3 linked regions of the Homo sapiens genome follow. The protein of the gene in region 2 purifies or fractionates together with the protein of the main gene of each other region. This does not show direct contact. Each region holds a gene or a part of one and is shown on either strand. Other genes may lie near its edges.

Region 1 (3,651 bases), on a different chromosome or scaffold from region 2:
TCTGCTCCGTGGGTGAGGAAAGGGCCCCTTTGGTGACTTGGAGCTCCTCCTGGGAGAGGGGGAGGGTCCCAGGGGTCTATGGCAGGCATGAGGGGTAGAGGCATGTCGTGGGACCCAGGCAGCCCCAGAGCCAGCCAGTGGGTGGGGCAGGGTGAGGCCTGAGGCCCTAGTGGTTGGGGACAAAGTCCTTGCCGTGGCTCCACGGACCCCTGTGCCCATCCCAGGAGCTGCTGCTGGCTCCTGCCCTCCTGGAGCAGCTCACCTGCACGCCGGGCTCGGGGGAGCTGGGCCGGATCCTCACTGTGCCTGAGAGTCAGAAGGGAGCCCTGCAGGGCTACCGGGATGCTGTCTGCAGTGGGCAGGCTGCTGCGCGTGCCAGGCGCTTCTCTGGGCTGTCTGCTGAGCTCCGGAACCAGCTGGACGTGGCCAAGGTCTCCCAGCAGGTGAGGCCCTGCCTGCCCACTGCCCGCTGCGCTGCTTGCTGCCTGAGTTGAAGGAGGGGCTGGGACCGCTTGGAGAGCTCAGGGCTCCTGGGCCCAGGCTGTGCGTGGGATGCTGCCTGTGGGTGGGTATCCAATGGCACCATGGCTGGTGCCCCACTCCTGCTCACCATCCCAGCTCCTGTCCTGGGCTCCCGTTACCCAGGCTGCAGACTCCCTCCCAGCACCCCTAGCTTGTGTCTCCCTGCTGCTGTCTCCCTGCTCCACTCCTGACCTATCACCCACCTGCAGTCCATCTCACCCCGCACTGCCCACGTGCCTGTTTCCCCTCAGCTGGGCCTGGATGCCCCCAACGGCTCGGACTCCTCGCCACAGGCGCCACCCCCACGGAGGCTGCAGGCGCTTCTGGGGGACCTGCTGGATGCCCAGAAGGTTCTGCAGGATGTGGATGTCCTGTCGGCCCTGGCCCTGCTACTGCCCCAGGGTGCCTGCACTGGCCGGACCCCCGGACCCCCAGCCAGTGGTGCGGGTGGGGCGGCCAATGGCACTGGGGCAGGGGCAGTCATGGGCCCCAACGCCACCGCTGAGGAGGGCGCACCCTCTGCTGCAGCACTGGCCACCCCGGACACGCTGCAGGGCCAGTGCTCAGCCTTCGTACAGCTCTGGGCCGGCCTGCAGCCCATCTTGTGTGGCAACAACCGGTAGGTGGGCGGCAGGGGAATGGGGGTGAGGAGGACAGCCAGGGGCAGGGCGTGAGCCCTGAATCTAGGCTCTGGCTCTGGAGGTCTCATTTGGCGCCCTGCCCTGTGCCCCGAAGTCCTGCCCCATCCCGATGCCCCTCCCACTCTCGCGGCCCTGCCCCCTAACGGCCTGGCCCGGCCCCCTGTCCCCTACCCCAGCACCATTGAACCCGAGGCGCTGCGGCGGGGCAACATGAGCTCCCTGGGCTTCACGAGCAAGGAGCAGCGGAACCTGGGCCTCCTCGTGCACCTCATGACCAGCAACCCCAAAATCCTGTACGCGCCTGCGGGCTCTGAGGTCGACCGCGTCATCCTCAAGGTGCACGGGTCTGGGACGCTCCATGTTTGACAGGCAGAGTGGGAGGGGGTCTCTGCAGGCCTGGGACCCCTGGGCAGAGGGTGTCGGCAGAATTGACACGGGAGGGGTACGGGGTGCAGCTTCGGATGGGACACAGGCTCTGCAGGTGGGGGACCAGGGGGTCGCTTTTCCTTTCGGGAGCTCCAGGGGCTGCTGTGGGAAGGCACTGGAGAGTCTGCTCTGGCAGGGTCCTCCGGCTGGGGGTGGCCGGTCCAGGGCAGTGCTGGTGGAGGAGGGGTGTGTCCAGAGACCTTCCAGAGTGTCTCGTGGGCGGGCAGCTGGGCAGTTTGGGTTCTGGGTGAGGGGTCCTGTCTGGAACAAGCAGAGGCCAGGGCTGGACATTGGCCTGGGAGGGGAGGGCCTGTGGACGAGGCCAATCCTGGGTGTAGAGGGGGTCCCTAGGATGAGGGTGGGACAGATGAGGGTGGAGCATTGGGTGCTTAAGGGACACATGGAGACAGGTCCAGCAAAGGAGCTGGTGGGCACAGCTGGGCAGTTGGGGGTCCGGAGGCCGTGCTGCCCTGGGAGTGGAGGGCAAAGCAGGTTTCACCTGAGCGCCGCAGAAAGGAGTGGAGAGCCCGGGCGTGGGACTCACGCTTGAAATCCCAGCACTTTGGGAAGCCATGGTGGGAGGATCGCTTGAGCTCAGGAGTTTGAGACAAGCCCGAGCAACATAGCGGAAGCCCGTCTCTACCAAAAATACAAAATTAGCCAGGCGTGGTGGTGGGCACCTGTAATCCCAGCTACTTGGAGGGCTGAGGCGGGAGGATCCCTTGAGCCTGGGAGGTGGAGGCTGCAGTGAGCTGGGACTGCACCACTGCACTCCAGCGTGGGTGACTGAGACCCTGTCTCAGGAAAAAAAAAAAAAAAAAGGTGGGGAGGGTTAGTTGTTGGCAATGGACCAGCCACTGGGGAGGTGAGTGGGGTGAGAGCCCCCAAGTCGGTGGGGGTCCGTCCAGAAACTCCATGCCCCTGCCTCACCCCCTGCAGGCCAACGAGACTTTTGCTTTTGTGGGCAACGTGACTCACTATGCCCAGGTCTGGCTCAACATCTCGGCGGAGATCCGCAGCTTCCTGGAGCAGGGCAGGCTGCAGCAACACCTGCGCTGGCTGCAGCAGGTGCCAAGGGTGCCCGCGAGGGAGGCGGCTGTGGGTGGTGTGGGGAGCCCCTCTCTGCCCGGCTCGGCAGGCGCAGGTCCCCCTCTGAGCCGCCCCTCCACCCCAAGTATGTAGCAGAGCTGCGGCTGCACCCCGAGGCACTGAACCTGTCACTGGATGAGCTGCCGCCGGCCCTGAGACAGGACAACTTCTCGCTGCCCAGTGGCATGGCCCTCCTGCAGCAGCTGGATACCATTGACAACGCGGCCTGCGGCTGGATCCAGTTCATGTCCAAGGTGAGCGGTGGGGCCTCCGAGCCAACCCACGACACCCCCTGCCTCGCACATGCCCACGGCGGGCTCCAGCGATGCCCCTCCCGCTAGGTGAGCGTGGACATCTTCAAGGGCTTCCCCGACGAGGAGAGCATTGTCAACTACACCCTCAACCAGGCCTACCAGGACAACGTCACTGTTTTTGCCAGTGAGCTGCCCTCCCCGCCCCGCCCCAGCCCCCCACAGACCTCTTCCTCCCCAGCCCAGCCCCACCCGTCCCCCTGTGCCCTCCCACTCCTTGGCCGCGCCCTGGCCTTCCCCCCTCACCCGCCACTTCCCCTCCCCACCCCTGCCCCTTCCAAACGGCCCCAACCCACAACCCGCCCCCTCCCTGCACCTCCCCACTTCTGCCCACCTTTCCCCTGGGGCCCCCACCCCAGCCCTGTCCCACCTTTCCCTGGACCCTCCTGTCCCCGCCCCCACACCTTGGCCCCGCCCCCGTGCCTTGCTTTCCCCCCCACCACGCCTTGGTCCCGCCCCTGCATCTTGGCCCCGCCCCAACCTCCCGGCCCCAGGTGTGATCTTCCAGACCCGGAAGGACGGCTCGCTCCCGCCTCACGTGCACTACAAGATCCGCCAGAACTCCAGCTTCACCGAGAAAACCAACGAGATCCGCCGCGCCTACTGGCGGCCTGGGCCCAATACTGGCGGCCGCTTCTACTTCCTCTACGGCTTCGTCTGGA
Region 2 (3,651 bases):
TCAAGCCTCAGTAATGGCAGATGCCCCTACCCCAACCAAGCTCGAGTGTCCCAGGTGAACTTCAGAGTGCTGTGCTGGCAGCAAGAATTTCAAGCCAGTGGATCTTAGCTTGCTGGGCTCCATGGGGGTGGGATCCACTGAGATAGACCACTTGAATCCCTGGCTTCAGCCCCATTTCCAGGGGAGTGAATAGTTCTATCTTGCTGGCATTCCAGGTGCCACTGGGGTATGAAAAAAAACTCCTGCATCTACCTCAGTGTCTGCCCAAATGGCTGCCTAGTTTTGTGCTTGAAACCCAAGGCCCTGGTGGTGTAGGCACCTGAGGGAATCTCCTGGTCTGCAGGTTGCAAAAACCATGGGAAAAGCCTAGTATCTGAATCAGAATGCACCTTTCCTCTCGGCACAGTCTCTCACGGCTTCCCTTGGCTGGGGAGGGAGTTCCCTGAACCCTTCCACTTCCCCGGTGATGTGATGCCCCACCCTGCTTTGGCTTACCCTCCGTGGGCTGCACCCACTGTCTAACCAGTCCCAATGAGATGAGCTGGGTACCTCAGTTGGAAATGCAGAAATCTTCTGTGAGTAACCTTCTGCGTTGGTCTTGCTGGGAGTTGCAGACCAGAGTTGCTCTTATTTGGCCATCTTGCCAGCCACCGTCTAAAGTTTGGTGAAGCCTTTAATTGAAAAATTTGAGTCTAGTCATATATATATATATGTATATATGTATTTTTTGCCTCATCCTACCCCTGCTTGCTTTCGTGGTACAAAGCAATAATCTCTCATCATTTATTTAATATTTTTCTCCTTTTGAATTTTATTATAACACGTAAATTTACTTCTCTCAAACTTCTATTTATTTCTGGACTAAAAAATATGCTTCTGAATAGGGTTCTGTCTTTCTCACGATAGAATTTTTGTTTTAGAACTAGAAAGTAAGTCAGCTTGGTATTATGTAGCACATTTAAAAAAATTTAGTTCTTGCAAACTCTGGTATTTTTCTTTGCCTTATTTATTTGATAACTAATATAGCTTGCCTAATAACTCCCTTTGGAAGCATTCAGTGGGTCATGGTAGTCTCAAATCTCAAAAGAACTTTCTCCATTACAATAGAGAGATTTTAAAATCTAAGGTTCCTCATGTGGCAATGAACATTTATGAACAATGGCAAAACTGGTTAGTCTTACTAGGAGAGGGAGGATGCCTACTTTGTGAGAGTAACATAAGATCCCTGAAGGCTTAAATTTCTGGAGCTCTTCATATATATACAAGAAACAAGAAGAAAGGGACAATAGAAAAAATATTGCAACTATTTTACTTGTTCACCTGATATCTTAGATTGCAGTTGAATAGACAGGTCAGAGTATTAGCAGGAATAGCCACAGGCTAAGGTCTAAATTCAGCAGTGGGGCACTATGTACTCTCTCTCCTAATAGATCTCCATCTGCATTTAATGCTTGGGATTACTTTACTGGCAAACAAAACCTTTAATTCTATTATAATTTTCCATAGACTCAAGAGAATTGACATCTGGTGTTAAAAACCAAAAATCATACAAATGACTGATATGTATCATTTTCCTTATTAAATATGGAAGAAAAGGGAGGAGGATGCAGAAATGGTAGGCTAAAAGCTCCAGAGAAAAACTTAACAGATTTTATGATTTTGCAGAAGATAAGTCCTTGACCTCTTCATTTTCACATTCAGCAGGTATGAAAGTTTCTTCTGTTGCATGTGGTTATATCATTCATTCTTAGAATTTTGACAGAAAGTTGTAGAACCAAAAAAAAGCTTGATATACAAACCACTAGCTGTACTGGCAATTTTACATGAAGGCATTACTGACCCTCCACAACTTCTCTCTATTAACTTTTCAGATTTATGCAACTACCATTATCCCAGGGGTTACTCAAAGACATTGACAAAAGATCTAGCAGCATTCTGTCCATTCAATATAACTACTTTTAACATCTAAATATTTTCAGGATTAACTTTGGTTGAAGTGTACTTGAATGAATTACATATTAATACCATCATCACCTCATTTGATCCTCATGTTACCCCCATCAGACCCAAAGAGTCAATACATTAAACTATTTGGTAGATGACAACTCAGGCTTCTGAAAGCTAAGTGACTTTCCCAGAATCACACAATAAGTTAATTGCTCATTCAAGGCATGAGAGTCAGATAAATGATTCCCAAACCAGGGATCCTTTTATGTTATTACATTGCCTAAAAAACTGGCATTCAAATGGAATTTAGAGGCCATTTAATCTGGCCATCTCATTTGATTGATGAATAAATTTTCTGGCTAAGAATCTATACATTTGTTTAGTGCTTTATATACTCATCAGCAGCATCAGCATAAATTAAATTTTCTATTATGTTCTCAGCCTGATTCACACTTTTTAGAAAATATAAAACTTATTATTTCATACTCAAATAATTTACTAACCTTGCATCATTAGTGAGCTATTACTACTAATATTACATCCCTATTTTTGAAATTTGTATTCAATATATTTATTTCATTAGGATGCTACTAATGAAATTAACTTCTTTTTTTTAAAAAAAAGGTGAATCATCTCATTTTTATCAGGTTCACTTACAAGTATGAAGTAGTTGATAAGTGACTCAGCGTTGGCCAACTGCAAGAATACCACTTAAAAGTAAATGGTTATTACTGAAGAGTGAATTATATATTTTCATTTTGTAGACTTAATATTTAAAATGGAAGATGGTGGGAAGCACACACATTTCTCACTCTTGTTGGGAAAGAAAATGACAATAAGATTTTCTGGTTTTTGTTTTGTTTTGTTTTTAGATGTATTAGCAAGACAGGTGTGGGGTAGAATGGAGTAGCCATGAACATAGACGAAAAGTGGAGAGAGTGAAAACATATCAGAGTGAAAAAACATAGATAAATGTAAGGGAGAAGAAAGAAAAAATAATAAAGAACAATATTTAAAGAGAACAAAATAAATAGAGCCAGAAAGAAACAGAGAAGGGGAAAAGAACAGGCAACAAATTAACAGGGAAAAGAAATCACAACCAGAAAAAAAAAAAGAAAATAAACTGCTTATTGATGAATAAAGAAAGAGAGAAAAAGAAAAATAAGGAAGGAGGTTGAGTAAGCACATAGGATCTCTAAACACTTGGCTCCAGGAGCTCATCTGACCACACTCAGACTCCAGGCATGCACACACAGAGTTGCCTGGAGATGTTTCTGTGTCTCCACCCTGCAAATGTGGTGAACCCTTCTCCTTCATCTTCCCTATTTCTGTAGTGTGTCATCATGGCCAGAAACTGATCAATGCACGAATTAGCTGAAATGGCAAGAAGGATTAGAGATACAGTGAGGAGGGTATGGTACAGACTTTTGACAGAACTTTCTCTACTAATTTGCCTAAAATAGAACACTTTACTCTGCTGATGCCATCATATATGGATTTTTTTTTTGGCAGAAACTTATTTTATTTTGCTTAGAGGAATGCTCATCTGATTAGACTCTGCGTCTATTCCAACCACCATTTAGAGAAGGTAGAGATAATTGAAAGATGGAAATGGGACAGGGAAGAAAGTTCATCAAGAAGTCAAGTAGTACAGAATCCCATCTGTTAAGAAACAGTAGAAAAATAACAGTGAGGCTGGGACAC
Region 3 (3,651 bases), on a different chromosome or scaffold from region 2:
AGTTTCAGTTTTCTGCATATGGCTACCCATTTCTCCCAGCACCATTTATTAAATAGGGAATCCTTTCTCTATTTCTTGTTTTGGCCAGGTTTGTCAAAGATCAAGTTGTTGTAGTTGTGTGGTCTCGTTTCTGAGTTCTCTATTTTGTTCCATCTGTCTATGTATCTGTTCTTGTACCAGTACCATGCTGTTTTCGTTACTGTAGCCTTTTAGTATAGTTTGAAGTCTGGTAGTGTGATGCCTCCAACTTTGTTCTTTTTGCTAAGAATTGTTTTGGCTACTTGGGCTCTTTTTGATTCCATAAAATAGTTTTATCTAAATCTGCGAACAATGTCAATGAAAGTTTAATGGGAATAGCATTAAATCTATAAATTACTTTGGGCAGTATGGCCGTTTTCATGATATTGATTCTCTCTGTTCATGAGCATGGAATGTTTTTCCATTTGTGTCCTCTCTAATTTCTTTGAACAGTGGTTTGTAGTTCTCCTTGAAGAGGTCTTTCACTTCCCTTGTTGGCGGTATTCCTAGGTATTTTATTCTTTTTGTAGCAGTTGTGAATGGGAGTTCATTTATGATTTGGCTTTCTGCTTGCCGGTGTTGGTGTATAGGAATGCTAGCAATTTTTGCACATTGATTTTGTATCCTGAGACTTTGCTGAAGTTGCTTATCAGCTTAAGAAGCTTTTGGGCTGACACAATGGGGTTTTCTAGATATAGGATCATGTCATCTGCAAACAGATAATTTCACTTCCTCTCTTCCTATTTGAATACACTTTATTTCTTTCTCTTGCCTGATTGCACTGGCCAGAACTTCCAATACTGTGTTGAATAGGAGTGGTGGGAGAGGGCATCCTTGTCTTGTGCTGGTTTTCAAGGGGAATGCTTCTAGCTTTTGCCCATTCAATATGATATTGGCTGTGGGTTTGTCATATATGGCTCTTATTATTTTGAGGTAAGTGCCTTTAATCCCTAGTTTATTGAGAGTTTTTAACATGAAGGGATGTTGAATTTTATCGAAGGCCTTTTCTGCATCAGTTGAGATACTCATGTGGTTTTTGTCTTTAGTTCTGCTTATGTGATGAATCACATTTATTAATTTGTATATGTTGAACCAACCTGGCACCCCGGGATGAAGCCAACTTGATCGTGGTAGATAAGTTTTTTGATGTGCTGGTGGATGCAGTTTGCCAGTATTTTGTTGAGGATTTTTGCCTTGAGGTTCATCAAGGATATTGGCCTGAATTTTTCTTTTTGTTGTTGTATCTCTTGCCAGGTTTTGGTATCAGCATAATGCTGGCTTCATAGAAGGAGTTGGGGAGGAGTCATTCCTTTTCAATTGTTTGGAATAGTTTCAGCAGGAATGATACCTGCTCTTCTTTGTACCCTGGTAGATAGAATTCAGCTGTGAATCCATCTGGTCCTGGGCTTTTTTTGGTTGGTAGGCTATTTGTTACTGTCTCAATTTCAGAACTCATTTATTAGTCTATTCAGGGATTCAATTTCTTCCTGGTTCAGTCTTGGGAGGGTGTATGAGTCCAGGAATTTAGCCATTTCTTCTAGATTTTCTGGTTTATGTGCATAAAGGTCAGCAGCTAAGTGAGCTCTTGAGGTTTGGGGAGACTTGGTAGATCTGGAAAACTCTTCAAATTAATGCTGTGAGAACCAGCTTCAAAAGTTGTTGGTCACATAGTTTCTCAGCACAACTTTTAAATTCCAGGGAAATAGTTATTATTCCAACTTTGGTCACTATCACCTTGGATCAGTATTGGAAATGGCACCCTTGATTGATAGCTGCCCCCCGCCCCCCGGCCCCTTGCCAAAGACCGCATCCAATGGGAGTGGGAGACAGATTCCTGTTACTGAAAGAATGAAGTATTGATGCTATGCAGGCAAAAAGCCCTAAGCTGTTCCCTATCACTTAATAATTTGTGGACATCCCATGTGGTTTGTGGTAATATAACATATATTTGAAGCATGGCATGCTTTTCCCCCTTTTCACTAGTTGTTGTGCAGGGAAGACTTGAGTTACATAAATAATTCACAAACACTTCTTACACAGATTAATTTAAATGAGAGCAGGGAGTGGTGGTAGCTCTCATTTTTTCATTGACTTTAGGTAGACAAAGAAATCTGGTGCAGAGTAAACCTGAATATGGAACTACTTAAATCCTGTTGAAGGAGCGATCATGGGACGCTGGCATTGCTGTTCCCTGTGTGCCTCCTGGTTTAAAAACCTAGGTCTGAAGGGCTGTCAGTTGGAGAACTTTAATGAGCCCTCATTACACTAAACCGTGTGGTTTATGAGAGAAGAAACTGGCTTATGATTGATACTGGAAATCATAAATGGTGATGGGTCAGAATTGGAGTTGGCACTAATTCACCTAGCAGTGGAGCAAAATTTAAGATTATATACAAAATCTGGTAATTTCATTTTTTAGCCATTATTTTTTATGTATAAATATAGTCTAATCATTTTCATTTATACTATATAACACTTTTAAAAGGTGGAGAAAGAATTTTGCCAGCTGATGCTGACATTTTTTTTTTCTTCCTAAAATGGAGGCTTATTAAATTCTCAAATCATCAGATAATCTTGACAGAGATCCTGGTTTGAGATTTTACATAAAGTTTATTTTAATGAAAAACATAATTTCTGCTTTCAGGTTTCTTCTCTATATTTGTTATACTTTTTAAAAAATGCATGTGTAATTTAATCACACTATGCAGTTTTAAAATGTAGGGTCACAGAAAGTCATGGAAAATGCTAATTAGTTACTATGTTATCACAAAAACATTTTAAAACTATTTTAAGTCTGATTTGTCACAATTTGTGATTTTGTGTAATAAATATATATACATATATAATCCCATTTAATCCTTGTGAAACCAAATGAGCCTATGTTATCTTTTACAAGTGAAACTCTGAAGGTTAACTTTCCTAAGAGCACGTGGCTGGTGTATCGTAGAGCCAAGGACCATGCCCTTAACTGCTGTCCTATGCTGCATATGTTAATATTGCCACCCTTGTATATAATTTTGGCAAAAAGCACTGGGACATTTCTTTTCCCAAAGCCCATCTCTTTACTTTCAGTTCCCTGACAACTTCTTTATATTCTGAAACTGTTAAAATGTGTTGTATTATCCATCATCTTGTGCTTCTGTTTGTTGGGAATGTGGCAACAGCTCCTGTATTGCAGCAGTGTGCCCTGTGAAGCCATTTGTTCTTTATGTCTTAGAGCAGCCTGACAGCCTTTCGTGTTAAATTCAGCAAGATTGCTTTTCATTTAACAAAGCTGAATGTTGCTTTCTAGGTGAAAAATAATTAAATGCTTTTAAAGATATATTTGATTAACAGGAAGCTGATCTGTGTAAATTAATTATAACCATAATGATGTCATAGCCTTGTCTTTTGTTATTAGCCAGGTAATTGACCAGAAGTTTAGAAGCTTATTGTAACTGACAGTTAGTAGTTTGACCTTGTGTGCTGTCTGAAAGTGAAACATGCACAATGAATGTAAATGCAATTTGTTCATTGAGCTGCATGTGCTGTCAGAACATCTGATCTTGGGTTCTTGTTTTTATTTTTCCATTATTTCTTTGTTGAAATTGGTGGTCAGGATTATATACTCACAGTGAATATTATATGTATTTA

What was found.
Region 1: the proteins of OR4N2 (region 2) and ABCA2 purify together in Homo sapiens (affinity purification with mass spectrometry; one large-scale study listed by BioGRID and IntAct). This does not show direct contact.
Region 3: the proteins of OR4N2 (region 2) and RHBDD1 purify together in Homo sapiens (affinity purification with mass spectrometry; one large-scale study listed by BioGRID and IntAct). This does not show direct contact.

The regions. Positions count from the first base shown.
Region 1 is NC_000009.12:137,018,184-137,021,834, reverse strand, and holds part of ABCA2 (ATP-binding cassette sub-family A member 2), read left to right. Parts: intron 1-224; coding exon 225-443; intron 444-773; coding exon 774-1,141; intron 1,142-1,339; coding exon 1,340-1,499; intron 1,500-2,528; coding exon 2,529-2,657; intron 2,658-2,764; coding exon 2,765-2,932; intron 2,933-3,019; coding exon 3,020-3,116; intron 3,117-3,483; coding exon 3,484-3,651. UniProt on the Homo sapiens protein: Probable lipid transporter that modulates cholesterol sequestration in the late endosome/lysosome by regulating the intracellular sphingolipid metabolism, in turn participates in cholesterol homeostasis.
Region 2 is NC_000014.9:19,820,748-19,824,398, forward strand, and holds part of OR4N2 (olfactory receptor 4N2), read left to right. Parts: intron 1-3,651.
Region 3 is NC_000002.12:226,842,484-226,846,134, forward strand, and holds part of RHBDD1 (rhomboid-related protein 4), read left to right. Parts: intron 1-3,651. UniProt on the Homo sapiens protein: Intramembrane-cleaving serine protease that cleaves single transmembrane or multi-pass membrane proteins in the hydrophobic plane of the membrane, luminal loops and juxtamembrane regions.